Linked DNA regions of Homo sapiens. The protein of the gene in region 4 interacts with the protein of the main gene of each other region in a pairwise test. Each region holds a gene or a part of one and is shown on either strand. Other genes may lie near its edges.

What was found.
Region 1: the proteins of PAICS (region 4) and MOB4 interact in a two-hybrid assay, tested with the Homo sapiens proteins (one large-scale study listed by BioGRID and IntAct).
Region 2: the proteins of PAICS (region 4) and FXR1 interact in a two-hybrid assay, tested with the Homo sapiens proteins (one large-scale study listed by BioGRID and IntAct).
Region 3: the proteins of PAICS (region 4) and PIAS2 interact in binary tests that used the Homo sapiens proteins (3 or more experiments, as listed by UniProt).

What each region holds. Positions count from the first base shown.
Region 1 is NC_000002.12:197,546,668-197,550,565, forward strand, and holds part of MOB4 (MOB-like protein phocein), read left to right. Parts: intron 1-1,668; coding exon 1,669-1,748; intron 1,749-3,607; coding exon 3,608-3,719; intron 3,720-3,847; coding exon 3,848-3,898. Other genes in the region: HSPE1-MOB4 protein, read left to right, coding at 1,669-1,748, 3,608-3,719, 3,848-3,898.
Region 2 is NC_000003.12:180,946,951-180,950,848, forward strand, and holds part of FXR1 (RNA-binding protein FXR1), read left to right. Parts: intron 1-914; coding exon 915-986; intron 987-1,396; coding exon 1,397-1,545; intron 1,546-1,770; coding exon 1,771-1,864; intron 1,865-2,276; coding exon 2,277-2,393; intron 2,394-3,898. UniProt on the Homo sapiens protein: mRNA-binding protein that acts as a regulator of mRNAs translation and/or stability, and which is required for various processes, such as neurogenesis, muscle development and spermatogenesis.
Region 3 is NC_000018.10:46,805,989-46,809,781, reverse strand, and holds part of PIAS2 (E3 SUMO-protein ligase PIAS2), read left to right. Parts: 3' UTR 1-3,793. UniProt on the Homo sapiens protein: Functions as an E3-type small ubiquitin-like modifier (SUMO) ligase, stabilizing the interaction between UBE2I and the substrate, and as a SUMO-tethering factor.
Region 4 is NC_000004.12:56,438,934-56,442,831, forward strand, and holds part of PAICS (bifunctional phosphoribosylaminoimidazole carboxylase/phosphoribosylaminoimidazole succinocarboxamide synthetase), read left to right. Parts: intron 1-2,729; coding exon 2,730-2,927; intron 2,928-3,898. UniProt on the Homo sapiens protein: Bifunctional phosphoribosylaminoimidazole carboxylase and phosphoribosylaminoimidazole succinocarboxamide synthetase catalyzing two reactions of the de novo purine biosynthetic pathway.

The DNA.
Region 1 (3,898 bases), on a different chromosome or scaffold from region 4:
GGAATTACAGGCGTGAGCCACCACATTGGGCCTAGAAAATTTAAAATTAAATATATGGCTTGCATTATACAGTTGACCCTTGAACAACTCCGGGATTGGGATCCCAACCCTCTGTGCAGCTGAAAATCTGAGTATCTAACTTTTGACTCCCCCAAAACTTAATTACTAATAGCCTACTGTTGACTGGAAGCCTTACCGATAACAGTCGATTAACACACATTTTGTATGTTCTGTGTATTATATAGTGTATTGCAATGAAGGAAGCTAGAGAAAATGTTATTCAGAAAATCATAAGGGGCTGGGCGTGATGGCTTATGCCTGTAAACCCAGCACTTTGGGAGGCTGAGATGGGAGGATCGCTTGAGGCCAGGAGTTCGAGACCAGCCTGGTCAACATAGTGAGACCTTCTTTCTTTCTTTTTTTTAAAGAAAATCGTAAGGAAGAGAAAATATATTTGCCATTCATTAAGTGGATCATTGTAAAGGTCTTCCTTGTTGTGTTCATGTCGTTGAGTAGGCTGAGGAGAAAGAGAAAGAAGTGGGGTTGGTCTTGCCGTTGCTGGGAAAATCTGAGCATAAGTGGATTTACGCAGTTCAAACCTGTGTTGTTCAAGGGTCTGCTGTATTTCTGTTGATGATTCTGGTTTAAAGGTTGTAAAACTGTCTCATGGTATACCCAAATGACAAATATGAGAAATACAGTTACTTGGGATATTTGCTTTTGACCAACTCATCTGTGGTCATATATCTGGAGAAAGGTAGTTTTTTTCAATAAATATTGCTCATGGTACTGTTTTTGGCAAGGAGTCCACTAATCAGAAATTCCTGTGGATATATTGTTAGAAAAATACTTCTTTTTTATTAGGTAATTTTTTAGTGCCACGGCACTAAGCCATATTTAGTAGTTACTAAACCGTATTTCTAAGTGACAGCTTCAGTCTCAAACTTGAAAAATAACCTAATTACTGGGTAGAGTCTTTGAGCTACAGTCATTGTTACTCCTTCCTCTAGTTGTTTTTTCCTTCTGGTTGACTCCCTGGTTTGTTTCTAGACTGCTTTCCCCTTGATGTTGCTCCCTGTCTGCCCTCAGGAGGACTGGATGAGGACAATTACTTTGCAGTTTTATTTTTCCTTTAATAAATTTACTGAGTTGCCATGAGACAGTGTTTCATTGTTTCTTTTTTTCATTGTTTCTGATAAATGGAACAGAATAAGTCAGATTTATTAAAATATAAGGAAACTTTGATATTTCATGTTAAAATTCAAAGGTGATCTGGGAGAAAGTTCTTTAGAGGGCTGCTAGATTGATAATAGAGTGCTAGGGACATAATAAGGAATATTGTTTAGGATATAAGAAGGCATCCCTGGAGATACCAGAGATAAATCAGGATTCTTCTTGTCTGTAATTGTTGTTTTCTTGTAGGTACGATGTTGGGAATAAAAATGGGAGACTGGTTTATGTATCATCTAGAATTGTGATATGGTTCAAGGGGATAATAAACCTTACTTATTAATATAACATTATATTTTACAAGCATTCGGAAATTGTAAGGAACTTTTTTCTTAGAACATGCTCATGTCTTTGGAATAAGGTATACCCATATAATGAATATATCTAACTTAAGAGAGAGCTCTTTGTTGATGCATTTCTATATTCTTTCTTTTGTAGTGTCCTGCTATAGACTATACTAGACACACACTTGATGGTGCTGCATGTCTTCTGAATAGCAATAAATATTTTCCCAGCAGGTAATCGAAACTTTTAAACATAGTGTTAAACATTTTAGAGTTAATTTATAAGATTGGTATTTTAGGGGGGAGGGGGGAGGGATAGTATTAGGAGCTATACCTAATGCTAAATGATGAGTTAATGGGTGCAGCACACCAACATGGCACATGTATACATATGTTACAAACCTGCACGTTGTGCACATGTACCCTAAAACTTAAAGTATAAATAATAATAAAATAAAAGATTAGTATTTTAAAAGTAAAATTAGGTTGCTCGTTAATGCATTTTTGTATTTTTTTTTTTAGCTGTTGTATTTTGGCTTGTTTATTCAAGTTTTGAAATTAGGACTGTGGTTAAACAGCAGAACTTGGCTGTCAAAGCTCAAGGCCAGTTCAGTCTAAGGCTAGTACCTGTTCATATATGTCATTCTGCAGAGCTCTCCCTCTCATGCTTTAGAGTTGGGATATGTATATACTTGCTCACTTGAATCTCTATGTTAGTTAGACTCGACCTCCCTTTATGTAGTATGCCTAAAGAGCAGACTTTCTGGCTGGGCGCAGTGGCTCACGGATGTAATCCCAGCACTTTGGGAGGCCGAGGCGTGCGGATCACCTGAGATTGGGAGTTCGAGACCAGCCTGAACAACATGTAGAAACTCCTTCTCTACTAAAAATACAAAATGATCTGGGCATGGTGACGAGTACCTGTAATCCCAGCCACTTGGGAGGCTGAGGCAGGAGAATCGCTTGAACCCAGGAGGCAGAGGTTGTGGTGAGCCGAGATCGCGCCATTGCACTCCGGCCTGGGCAACAAGAGCGAAACTGTCTCAAAAAAAAAAGAGCAGACTTTCTTATTTGTTTTTGAAGGATTCCTTATCCTTGCTCATTGATTTTTAAGATCTGAGAAGTCTGTACATGTAATATATTATCGGTGAAGTTTGTGACTGCCTTTTATTTTATTAAGGTATTTGTTACCAGGTGGATAGATTTGGAGATTTCCCCCACCAAATATGATTAGCTTCAAAGAGCTCATATAAAATATGTTAAGAAAAATACTGACTTTTGACCTTAATATTCTGTGTATACATATTTTAAAAAAGGATATCAGAAATATGCAGAAAATTTCAATTTTAAAAAAACAATTTTAATTTCTCTCTCTCTGTTTTTCTTTTTCTATATGGAGTCTTGCTCAACCAGGCTGGAGTGCAGTGGCGCAATCTCAGCTCACTGCAACCTCTGCCTCCTGGGTTCAAGCGTTTCTCCTGCCTCAGCCTCATGAGTAGCTGGGATTACAAGTGCCTGCCACCACGCCTGGCTGATTTTTGTATTTTCTAGTAGAGACGGGGTTTCACCATGTTGGCCAGGCTGGTTTCGAACTCCTGACCTCAGATGATCCACCTGCCTTGGCCTCCCAAAGTGCTGGGATTACAGGCGTGAGCCACCACACCTGGCCTTAATTTCTAAAAAAAAAAAAAAAAAAAAGAAAAGAAAAGGAAAGAATAACCTAGTTCTGTAAAATAAAACAATAATTCCTTTCAGGAGTTTTCAATCGCCTCTAGTGGACAATGTATTAATGTTGGAAATAGATGTTATAGTAAATTTTGAAATGTCAGGGATTTATTCTAACTGCATTAAACTTTTACAAAGTTTCAAAACTATAATGCTGAATTTAAGTTAGGCCCTGTGATTAGGTAGAAAGAACACTGGCCTAGAACTGAGGAGCAGGGGCTCCAGGCATTTACTCGCAGTGTGACCTTGGAGTAGTCGCTTATTTTCCCTAGGTGTCAGTTTCTACACTTGTAAGCGAGAAATTGGACTATATTGTTCCTAAGATTCTATCCAGTTCTAAGAATCTATGGTTTCTTTTCTACTTCTAGGGTTAGCATAAAGGAATCATCTGTAGCGAAACTAGGATCAGTATGCCGTAGGATTTACAGAATATTTTCACATGCTTATTTTCATCATCGGCAGATATTTGATGAATATGAAGTAAGTATATTTCACTGATTATCTTGATGCATTCTTATCAGTGTAACAGTAATATATATTGATGTTATTTCTAGTCTTTTAGTTTGGGATAGTGAATTAAAATAACATTTTTGTCTTCCTCTCTACAGAATGAAACATTTTTGTGTCATCGGTTTACTAAGTTTGTGATGAAATACAAT
Region 2 (3,898 bases), on a different chromosome or scaffold from region 4:
GAAATAACTCTAATCCCAAGTGAAAGCTTCTGTGACCTATTACGTTAATAAAACTGATATTTATAGATATAAAGAATATGACTTGTTTTTTTGTGGATAGTTTTTATTTTGTTTTTTTTGAGATGGAGTTTTGCTCTAGGTGCCTAGGCTGGAGTGCAATGGTGTGATCTCTGCTCACTGCATCCTCCACCCTCTGGACATGATTCTCCTGCCTCAGCCCTCCGAGTAGATGAGATTACAGGCACCTGCCACCATGCCCGGCTAATTTTTATATTTTAGTAGAGACAGGGTTTACCGTGTTGGTCAGCCTTGTCTCGAACTCCTGACCTCAGGTTATCCACCCACCTTGGCCTCCCAAAGTGCTGGGATTACAGGTGTGAGCCACTGCGTCCGGCCTGGATAGGAATTTTGTAAGATACTTAATGTATTCTGCTAGATGGACTGAATGTGTGTAATTTTTTTGTTCAGTTAAACAATTTTAGTACATTTGATTTAGGTTCTTTAGCACGGGATCTAAATGTCATATCCTCGATGGAATTTAAAAATTACGTTAATCACTTTCTGAGAACAATTTTTAATATTAACAATGTTGACAGAAACAGGAAGACCTGTGTTTTACATTATTTAAAACTCCTTTGTAAGAGCATTTCTTTAAAATAATACTTATGTTTAGTAAACCTCATGAATATGGAATTAATTTCTAAGAAGCTAAATTGCCCAAAAAAGTAGTTTTATTTTTAAGTAGTAAATTTAAGTTACATATCACTTTCTTTAAATTGCATTTAATATGCCAATTTAAATAAAATAGCATTTTTCATTCTTAAGTTTATTGGGATTGGGTATTAATAAAAAGTCATTTACAGCATTGAAATCTTTTGGGATGAATGGATATAGGCATTTTTTTTTCTTCTCAGGTATATTCAAGAGCAAATGACCAAGAGCCATGTGGGTGGTGGTTGGCTAAAGTTCGGATGATGAAAGGAGAAGTAAGTACTCTTCACACTTGCTTTGTGACTAGTTTCTAAGGAAGTACCTCAGTGCTTGGTTTTTGTAAATCTTATTTCAACTGTTAGTTTTATTTCTAAAAGCCTACCTGAGAAATAGTTGATCAGACATTTCCATTAGCATTAATTTCTGTTTGTGTTCTGTATTGGCAAACACCAAAGCTGCTCTCCAGAGGTACACCTCAAGCATGTAAGGACCGCCAAGGTTCATGCTTGTAAGAACCTATAATCTAGTTTAGGCAAATCAGATTGATGTAGCTAAGCTGTGCTTAGTATTTTATGCCACATGGGGGAGGGTCCGTTGGTTAAGCTGAGCAAGGTAATTAGAACTTCATTTAAACTTCATTATTTTTGTTCAGATGGGATTTTTAAAGTATTTTGATGTCTTTTAGTTTTATGTCATTGAATATGCTGCTTGTGACGCTACTTACAATGAAATAGTCACATTTGAACGACTTCGGCCTGTCAATCAAAATAAAACTGTCAAAAAAAATACCTTCTTTAAATGCACAGTGGATGTTCCTGAGGATTTGAGAGAGGCGTGAGTAATTTTATATACTATTGAATTGTTCTGTGAATTAAGAAGATTTTTCAGTCCTACAAAACATTTTCCCTAATGCCCAATCAAACCTTCTGATGGAAAATCATCTTAATGAACAAAGGTTTTAGTGGGGCTTGTCAAAATGAAACACTGACTTTGTATTGTGACTCTCCTCTGACTTTAATCTGTTATTGAGTTCTTACACATAAATTGATTTCTCTCTAGGTGTGCTAATGAAAATGCACATAAAGATTTTAAGAAAGCAGTAGGAGCATGCAGAATTTTTTACCATCCAGAAACAACACAGCTAATGATACTGGTAAGATAGTACCATATTATAAGGTAGCTTATTAATGGATATTGCACAGATTTTATAATTACATATTTCAGAAGAGAAAAGCTAAGATCAACTTAGTGTATAGTGAATTTATTAATATAGTGTGGGAGAAAAATTTGTTTGCAGCTATAAAATGTTAATTACATTCTTAACATCATAAAATTCTTAATGTGTGAGATTCCGGATTTTTCCCCAATCAAACATATTCTGAATAGCAGATCTAAATAATACAGGAATTCAGAAAGGAAAGTGTGATTACTCAGAGTAGTGAGTGTTAGGTGAAAGAAGTGTAGTAGATGAGAAGCAAGGAAGGCTTTGCATAGAAGATGGGATGGTGTTTGTGCTATTTGGAAGAATGATTAAAGTTTTGAGTAATTAGCTTGTTTGTTTATAGTCTGCCAGTGAAGCAACTGTGAAGAGAGTAAACATCTTAAGTGACATGCATTTGCGAAGTATTCGTACGAAGTTGATGCTTATGTCCAGAAATGAAGAGGCCACTAAGCATTTAGAAGTAAGTGGGTTTACTTACAAAAGAGTTTTCTGTGTCCCATTTAGTTTTTGTTTGTTTTTTGGAGACAGATTCTGGCTCTGTTGCCCAGGCTAGAGTGCAGTGGCACAATCTTGGCTTACTGCAACCTCCACCTCCCGGATTCAAGCGGTTCTCCTGCCTCAGCCTCCGTGTAGCTGGGATTGCAGGTGTGCCCCACCAAGCCCAGCTAATTTTTGTATTTTAGTAGAGGTGGGGTTTTGCCATGTTGGCCAGGCTGGTCTCGAGCTCCTGGGCTCAAGTGATTGCCCGCCTCAGCCTCTCAAAGTGCTGGGATTACAGGCATGAGCCACCGAACCTGGCCCCCATTTAGTTTTATATTTTTCAAGTTCCTTGCTTCAAACGAAGGCAGCCCAGGACCTCTGTTTCGTGACTGTTTGGAGTTGTGTCCGTAGAACAATTGCTTTTCCATTTTACCTTTTATCAAACATAGCCTTTCCTTTGCGAAATGCCTGTTGACTTGTTGGTAGGACTTAGATGACAGGTGCCAAAGAGCTAAGAAACTAGGGATACTCAGTAGACTGTATTGCTAGTTCTTTACTTTGTATTTAACCTTTTTATTTTTTTAACTGCCTTGTCATCTGTCAGTCATGATATCTTTCATCAGTAACTAGTTCACTGTAACAACTCTTGTGTGAGAGGAGAGGAGGACTAGGAGTGAGGCATCATGTGGCATGTAGTATTAAAATATTAAGCTTATCATTATATCTCTGTCTTATCCTAAGGTACTCTGTTTTGTCCTGTTCTTCCCTGCTACACTAGTAGGATACTTGTTCTTCCCACTCACTCACACTTTCTAGATCTAGATGAACACATGTGCATGCACACACTGTGATGTCTCAGAGAAATTAAGATATGTTTATTATCCTTAGGACAAATTTGGAAATGTTCTCATTAATTTAAAAATTCTGAACAAGGGATATGTGAACAAATCTGCCTGTATCTGGAAAAGTGTTTTAGACTAATAAAATAGATGAATAAAACAGTTTCTTTTCCCCATTCATTTTATGACATTAGATGAGTTTCCTTTGTTTCTTAAGAAACTTGAGTTTTGGCCTTTTTAAAAAAATTTATGTGGGTTTTCGGTGGTTTTTTCTTCTTGGGTTTTTCTTTATACTGTGGTAAAGTACATATGAAACTTAGCATCTTAACCATTTTTAAGTGTACACTTAGTATTAAGTATGTTTACATTATTGATCAATCTTCAGTACATCTCATCTTGTAAAACTGCAAATCTATACCCTTTAGACAGCTGCTCATTTTCCCCTTTCCACAGCCCCTGACAACCATCATTCTATTTTCTGTTGCTATAAATTTGACTATTTTAGATACCTCATGTAAGTAAAATCATTTTAGTCTTTTTTGTGACTGGCATATTTTACTTAGCATCAAGGTTCATCTATGTAGCATGTGTCAGAATTTCCTTTTTAAGGCAGAATGTATATACCACATTATGTTCATTCATTAAT
Region 3 (3,793 bases), on a different chromosome or scaffold from region 4:
AAATCAATTTTTTTTTTTTTTTTTTTGAGGCTGAGTCTTGCTCTTGTTGCCCGGGATGGAGTGCAATGGTGCGATCTTGGCTCACCGCAACCTCCACCTACAGGGTTCAAGCGATTCTCCTGCCTCAGCCTCCCGAGTAGCTGGGATTACAGGCATGTATCACCACGCCCAGCTAATTTTGTATTTTTAGTAGATACGGGGTTTCTCCATTTTGGTCAGGCTGGTCTCGAACTCCCGACCTCAGGTGATCCGCCTGCCTTGGCCTCCCAAAGTGCTGGGATTTACAGGCGTGAGCCACCGCGCCTGGCCAAAATAAAATGTTTTTATCTTTCTTCACTTAGAACTATGAAGGCCTTTTCTTGTTCTGGTAACCCCCCACAGTGTAATTGGTGCTGAAAATAGTTTCGTGCCTGAGGTCTGTTGTCACTCACTCACTTTCTGACAATTAGGTGAGCCACTTGAGGATTTTCTGGCCTGAAGTTATAAAAACTTGGCATCTGTCCTAAGGTAATTGTAAAGGCAAAATGAAAGCATTGAGGTGAATTTAGGTTATATGGCATTTATCTGGTAATGTGTTTCAGAAAAGCTAGAATGAAAATGTGATGTAAGGGATAGCAAGTGTAGGTTGATTCATAATTCTTGGTATAAAACCAAGTTTTCCTTAGTCTTGAGGAATTTGAAGAAAGGTAAAATGTTGGATTTTAAGCAAAGTAGGATTGACCAGAGACTGTTCTGACTTTGACATTCAGACCTTTCAGATGTTCTTCCTTCAGACCAGTCCAAGACACTCAGCATTTCCAGCCAAGTTGTCTTTTTTTTCTGCCAATAAAGTATTCATTAGTTGACGTTTGTTTGTATTTTAAGTAAAGTCAATTTTTTTTAAAGCATTAATTTAATTCACGGGTATGCCTTTCATTTCTCTGGCCTTCAGTTGGTTTAAAAAAAAAAAAAAAAAAAAAAGCACTTAGCCGGACCATTCTTTCTTTAGTAAACATTTTTATTTTCTTAATTTTTCCTGAAAGATTTTCTTCATTTTCATGGAATGTCATAATGACACTACCATTATTTTCTAGCTCTTTGCATAATAGAAAAATGTAGAGCAGTGCACCATTTAAACACGTCTGACATTGGATTTAGTGGTCCTAGGTTCATGTGATTTGGGAGCCTTAAGTTGTTATTTAGATTGATTCAGCCTGATTCACCATCTTTTTTACTACAGTTCTACATGAATGTGGTGAAACAGGTAGAAGAAAATTAAGCATTTCTCTGCTTTTGGAGTCTAATGTTCCTGCCTAGTGACTGGTTTGTAACACCCCCCTCACCCCTACTTTGTTAGGAACCTGCAATTCCTAAAAGAAATAAATAAAGCTGTACCCAATGTCCATTCTTTAATGCTTGCCTGGTTGAATAATGTTTGTTTTTTCTGTTTATGTCAGTAGTACATGCTTATTGTGGAAAATTTAGACAATACAGAAAAGTATAACAATTAATTGCCTATGATTCTGTCACCAGAAAAAATCACTTGATATTTTTGCATCTTCCTTGCCATTGTCTTTGCTACTTCTGCATATTTTTACTTAGTTTCATCATTCTCAGTGTAATTTATATCTTGGGGTTTTTCCCCGCAACCTACAGGCATTATTCCATGTCATTAAAACTGTGTCAACTATTATTAATTTTATGGTACTCCATTGTTATGGATGTGCCATGTTTCATATAACCTTTACTTATTTTGAACAGTTTAGATTATATCTCATAATGCCACAATGAATGTCTTTGTGTATAAATTATTTTCTTAGGATAAAATACTGGAGGTGGAATTTCTAGTCAAGGGTATATGAACACTTTTGTAGTTCTTGATTCATACCACTTTTCCACATGGGTATGTTAATTTATACTGCAGCTAGATGGTATGGGAAGGGTGGTCTAGCCATATTTTCCAAGAACATGCAACGTTTTATCTTTATGCAGGCATCTGCACTAAGACCCTCTGCCTTTCTGACTCTATGGAACGGGGTTAACTGATATGGAGATCATTGGCAGAGATTTTCCCAAGCTTTCTTAGTTTTAAATATATCTGACATGGGCCGGGTATGGAGGCTCACGCCTGTAATCCCAGCACTTTGGGAGGCCAAGGCGGGCAGATAATCTGAAGTCAGGAGTTGGAGACCAGCCTGGCTAACATGGAACATGGTGAAACCCCATCTCTAGCAAAAACATAAATTAGGTGGGTGTGATGGCAGGCGCCTGTAGTCCCAGCTACTTGGGAGACCGAGGCAGGAGAATCGCTTGAACCCAGGAGGCGGAGGATTTGCAGTGATCCGAGATTGTGCCACTGCACTCCAGCCTGGGTAACAAAGCAAGACTCTCTAAAAAAAAAAAAAAAAAAAAAAAAAAATATATATATATATATATATATATATATAAAATCTGACATGTTTCAGAAACACCTACGTATGGCTATCCAAGCTTTTCCCATGATTTTACTGGCACTGTAAAGTTGCACAAATATTCTTTGTCAGACTACGTTTTCCATCTTTAGTTCAAAAGTTTTGTCACTTTTTAAAAAAAGCCTCTTGTACCTAAGGCCTGCCCTTAAGAGGTCAGCTCTCTTTTTCCTCTTCCTGTAGGCCCCATTATGGCCTTTCTGAGCTCCCCAAAGCCAGTAGAATCTACTGAGCCAAAGGCATTCCATCCCCAAACTGAAAAGTGGTAAGGCTAAAAGCTATAAAAACAGGCAAACATTGCCTGTTTTCACTTTATATTCCCTTATGTTTCCAATAAGGGTAGCTGCAGGGAAAGAAAAAAACAGATTGCTACCTTCAGATGTTTGAGGTACAACATTTTCTTGATTGGCGTAGCACAATCATTTCCCAAACTGCTTCCTATTTCTGAATGGCTTTTTTAAAAAGCTTTATTTTGTGTTCTCAAAGCTTAATTATTTTAAGTGACGAAGAGTGTTACCGTGTTGTAGAATAGCATATGCCTCTTATTTTGGCCTTCATCAAACTGTTTAATAAATGTTTAGAGTGTTTTGTAAGTACACGTGGAATAGAGTGTTACAGAAGTTTTGGTTCCAGACATCAGGCAGCTTATAATCAAGGTTCCAAAAATCAAGAATTCTTAAGCTGGGCATGGTGGCTCATGCCTGTAATCCCAGCACTTTGGGAAGCCAAGGCAGGCAAATCACTTGAGGCCAGGAGTTTGAGACCAGCCTGGCCAACTTGGTAAAACCCCATCTCTACTAAAAATACAAAAAATTAGGGCATGATGGCTCATGTCTGTAATCCCAGCTACTTGGGAGGCTGAGGGATGAGAATTGCTTGAACCTGAGAGGCGGAGGTTGCAGTGACTCAGGATCATGACCCTGTACTCCAGCCTGGGTGACAGAGTGAGACCAAAAAAAAAAAAAAAAAAAAAAAAAAAAAGTAACAGGCATTGTGCAAAGAATTTTCCAAGAATGTCTCATTCTTGCAATGGCTTCTCAGAGGAAAGTGGTGTTATTCCCCATTTTACAAATGAAACAGGTTTAGGTAAGTTTCCCAAGGTCACAGTGAATGAGTAGTGGACTTGGGAGTCTGACCTAGACTTACCCCAAAAGCTCTCTGCGTAAACTGAAGTGACGTTAATTAGCTGTGCTATCTAGGAGACTGATATGGGAATCTAGACTTAAAATTATGAGAACTGGTTTCAGATGATGGCCAGAGTAATAAGGAAGGAGTGGATGCTGAAGCCATTTCAAAGGAAGACTCAAGATTCAGTGACTGAATATAGGAGTAAGGGTTGAGTGCAT
Region 4 (3,898 bases):
TTCTGTGCTTTCCCAGACTCTTAAATTTCAATTCCATGAATCATTTTCAGTCCTCATCAATCTTTCCAGAATTCATCTACAAATTTGTAGCAACCATTTTGGTACTTGCAGGGTATGTCACGTATGGTTGTTTCTTATGTTGTTTCTACCCATTAATTCAAATTCCTTCCCTCTTTAATGACTAAGTAATACAGATTCAACTAAATTAAGGGGAGGGGCATTAGATACAAACTTTGCCCGGGCTTACTGCATATTAATATATATAAATGTTAATTTCTTTATCTGATCTGGGCACTGTTTTTTTTGTTTTTGTTTTTTCTTGAGACGGAGTCTCCCTCTCTTGCCCAGGCTGGAGTGCAGTGGCGCCATCTCAGCTCACTGCAACCTCCGCCTTTCAGGTTCAAGCGATTTTCCTGCCTCAGCCTCCCAAGTAGCAAGGATTACAGGCGTGCACCAACACATCCGGCTAATTTTTGTAATTTTAGTAGAGACAGGATTTTACCATGTTGGTCAGCCTGGTCTTGAACTCCTAACCTCAAGTGATCCGCCCGCCTCGGCCTCCCAAAGTGCTGGGATTACAGGCATGAGCCACTGTTCCCGGCCCACTGTTCTTTACCCTTCCCTCTCTTTTATCCTCCATGATGAATTCTCAAAGCTACTATCTTAAATATCTTGCATCTTTGCCCACTACTCTTTCCTTAGACCAAGACATTTCTTTTTCTTTTCCTTTTTTTTTATTGAGACAGGGTCTCACTCTATCACCCAGGCTTGAGTGAAATAGTGCAAATCTTGGCCCACTGCGGCCTCGACCTCCCCAAGTAGCTGAGACTACAGGCATGCACCACCATGCTGGGCTAATTTTTGTTTTTTTGGTAGAGATGGGATTTTGCCCTGTTGCCCAGGCTGGTCTTGAACTCCTGAGCTAAAGCAATCTGCCCTCCTTGTCTTCCTAAAGTGCTGAGATTACAGATGTGAGCCACTGCACCTGGCCAGACGTTTCTTGTTCAAGTTACTGCAACAGCATCCTAACTGGTCTTCCAAGCTCTAGTTTTTGTTCACTCACCCCTTCCTCCCTTCATTGTCCATACAGAAGCCGTAATGATCTTTCCAAATAGCGTTTTGCTTTAGCACTTAAAAGCCTTATAGCTCTTCTTGGGTTAAAGTCTAAACTCAATCAGCATGGCTTGTGAAACAAGAAGGATGTGTAGCAAAATGGAAGGGAAGTTTTCCAGGCCTAGGAAAGAAGAGATTGTCAGAAGCTAGGGGAAGATTGTATAAGAATTAAAGATGTTGGAGTTCTAGATAGGAAATAGACAAATAAGAGTTTGGAGCAGTAAGCCAGGGCTGTATCTTAAAGGGACTTTTAAACCATGTTAATGAGTCTAGACATTACATTAGGGAGGGTAGAGATTCATCCTCTAAATTAGGTGCCCTACAGTGGCAACTGTTAACTAAATTACAACTACTTTGTTTAATGGTTACCTCCACTAGCTGGTGATGTGGCCCCTGTCCAACTCTTAAGTCTTGTCTCCTGCCATTCTTTAGCTGCAGCCCCCACCCCTTCCCCTGCCCAACAGCAATGTACATATACCCAGAGCTCCAGCTCCAACCAGACTGAAGTTCTGCAATCCACTTTGACCACCTTGTATTTATTCATCAACACTACCTACCCCTTTCTCTCCTTTGGCTAAATTTCGATGATTCTTCAGATTTCAACCTGTCACTTTCTTGTAGACTTCTTTTTCTAATGTCTAGACTAGTCCCATAGTCTGTATTTATTGCATTCTATTATTATGATGTCTTATTTAATATCAGCTCCCCTCAGACTCAGGTCTCTTGAGAGCAGGAATTATTATTTACTGGTACATCCCTTGGCACATGGATACACCGGGAAAATGTTGATACTGAGAGTGTTGTGGAAGTATGAGGGTTGATTTCTCTCTTTCGAAATTTTAAGTTCCTAAACATCTGTTATCTTTACTCTTTCTCTAAATCATCCTTTTGTGTACTTCTTAGGTTTTGTGACCAGCATCAAAATTGGATTCCTTTGTGCTCACTTCCTCACAATTTCTTACAACTGTTAGTGAAGAGAAAGGATTAATGGGGGCAGGGACAGGATTAAGAAATAGAGAGGGATGCTTCCAAATGTGCTAACTTCAATGGGATGGCATGCCTCCTCTTGAATATTAACTTGAAATCAAGAAACTCATCTGGCTGAATGTTCCCATTTTGCCTACAAAAAAGCAAATATCAGCAAAAATCGCATATTTTTTCCTGCAAGATAGTTTAGATACTATACTGTGAGTGTGTCTGTGAAAATACTAGTATAGTTACATTACTTTAAGTGGGTCTTAATTAATTTTAATTCTAGTTCAGTTCTGCTATGAGAGGCAGGTTAATAGTGGAAAGAGCACAGGATTTGATGTCAGAGGAGTTAGGATTTTATCTACCTCTTATATTTCCTAACTGCATGACCCTCAACCCTTTTGATTTCTGCTTTACTAATTTCTACAATTATTTATGTAATTAAAATTCTTCACAAGATCATGTGAATCAAATGTGATGGTATGAGAAATACATTGTAGAGTATATGGTTTTATACAGATGATTTAATTTTTATTAATATTACTTAATCACTGTATATTTACAGATTAATTGTTCTAGGTGATTTAGTCTTCAGCATTCAGGAAGTTTCTGAATTTTGGTCTATTTCCATTTTATTTCCACAGTACTGAACATTGGTAAAAAATTATATGAGGGTAAAACAAAAGAAGTCTACGAATTGTTAGACAGTCCAGGAAAAGTCCTCCTGCAGTCCAAGGACCAGATTACAGCAGGAAATGCAGCTAGAAAAAACCACCTGGAAGGAAAAGCTGCAATCTCAAATAAAATCACCAGTTGTATTTTTCAGTTATTACAGGAAGCAGGTAAGCAGCTCCCTCAAAGTCTCTTCTCTCACCTTCTCTGGTAAGCATGTCGATGTCTTTCATGTGAAGTTGGCATTAATATGAACAACTTGTTTGCAGATGTCTCAAAAGCTAAGTGAATTTAAATCAAACCAAGAACCCTTAAACTTCACTATAACACCTTATTTGGTTTGGGATTATTAGTATCATTGAATTAAAAGGAATCTTAACAAGTTTGCTGTAATCTTTATCTGGCACATGCACTCTCTGTGCAGCTTACCTCTCCAAGGCCATCTTCACTTTAAGGAATTTAACTATGAAGGAAACCCATTTTAATGTTAAGCAGTTCTAACATGAAGAACTGAAATTTACTCCCTGTAATTCTATACAAATGGTCTTTGTTCTGCCTCTGGGAGATAATACAGAATTTCAAATTCCTCTTCCACTTGAAAGCCCTGAAAAGTAGTTGAAGACAGCAACCAAACCTTCTCCTCCTGCCATTCCCCAAGTGAGATATTTGAACTAAAACCCCAGAGCGCCCTCCTGTTCAAAAACTGAATGAAGGCTCTATTTTCAATAGAGAAATAGATTCAAAAGACCAAATGAAGATCAGAACATTGTGTGGTGGGTATTTGAAGCAAAGGGAAGGAAATTAGGATAAAGGGGTTTTCTGCAGGGATTCAGTCAGTTGCTGGTTGGTCTGTAGTATATGAAATTTCAGCTAGGAAAAGATTTGAACTCTTGCCACACAGTGTAAATAGCCTCATTGCTTTGGATCATTCAACCTACGAAACCTTACCTATGAAATAAAAGCTTTTTCTTTATCATTCTTGCCAATTCTAATTTTATAATTTAATAACTTTCCTTACTTTTAATTCCAATATTCCCAGTTGCCCTTTCATTTCTTAGAGTTTCTGGTAGCACTAATCTTTCTTAAATTCAACAGGGGATTTAATGCTTTTGTTTTCAGTTAAGTTAGATGTACGTGCCTT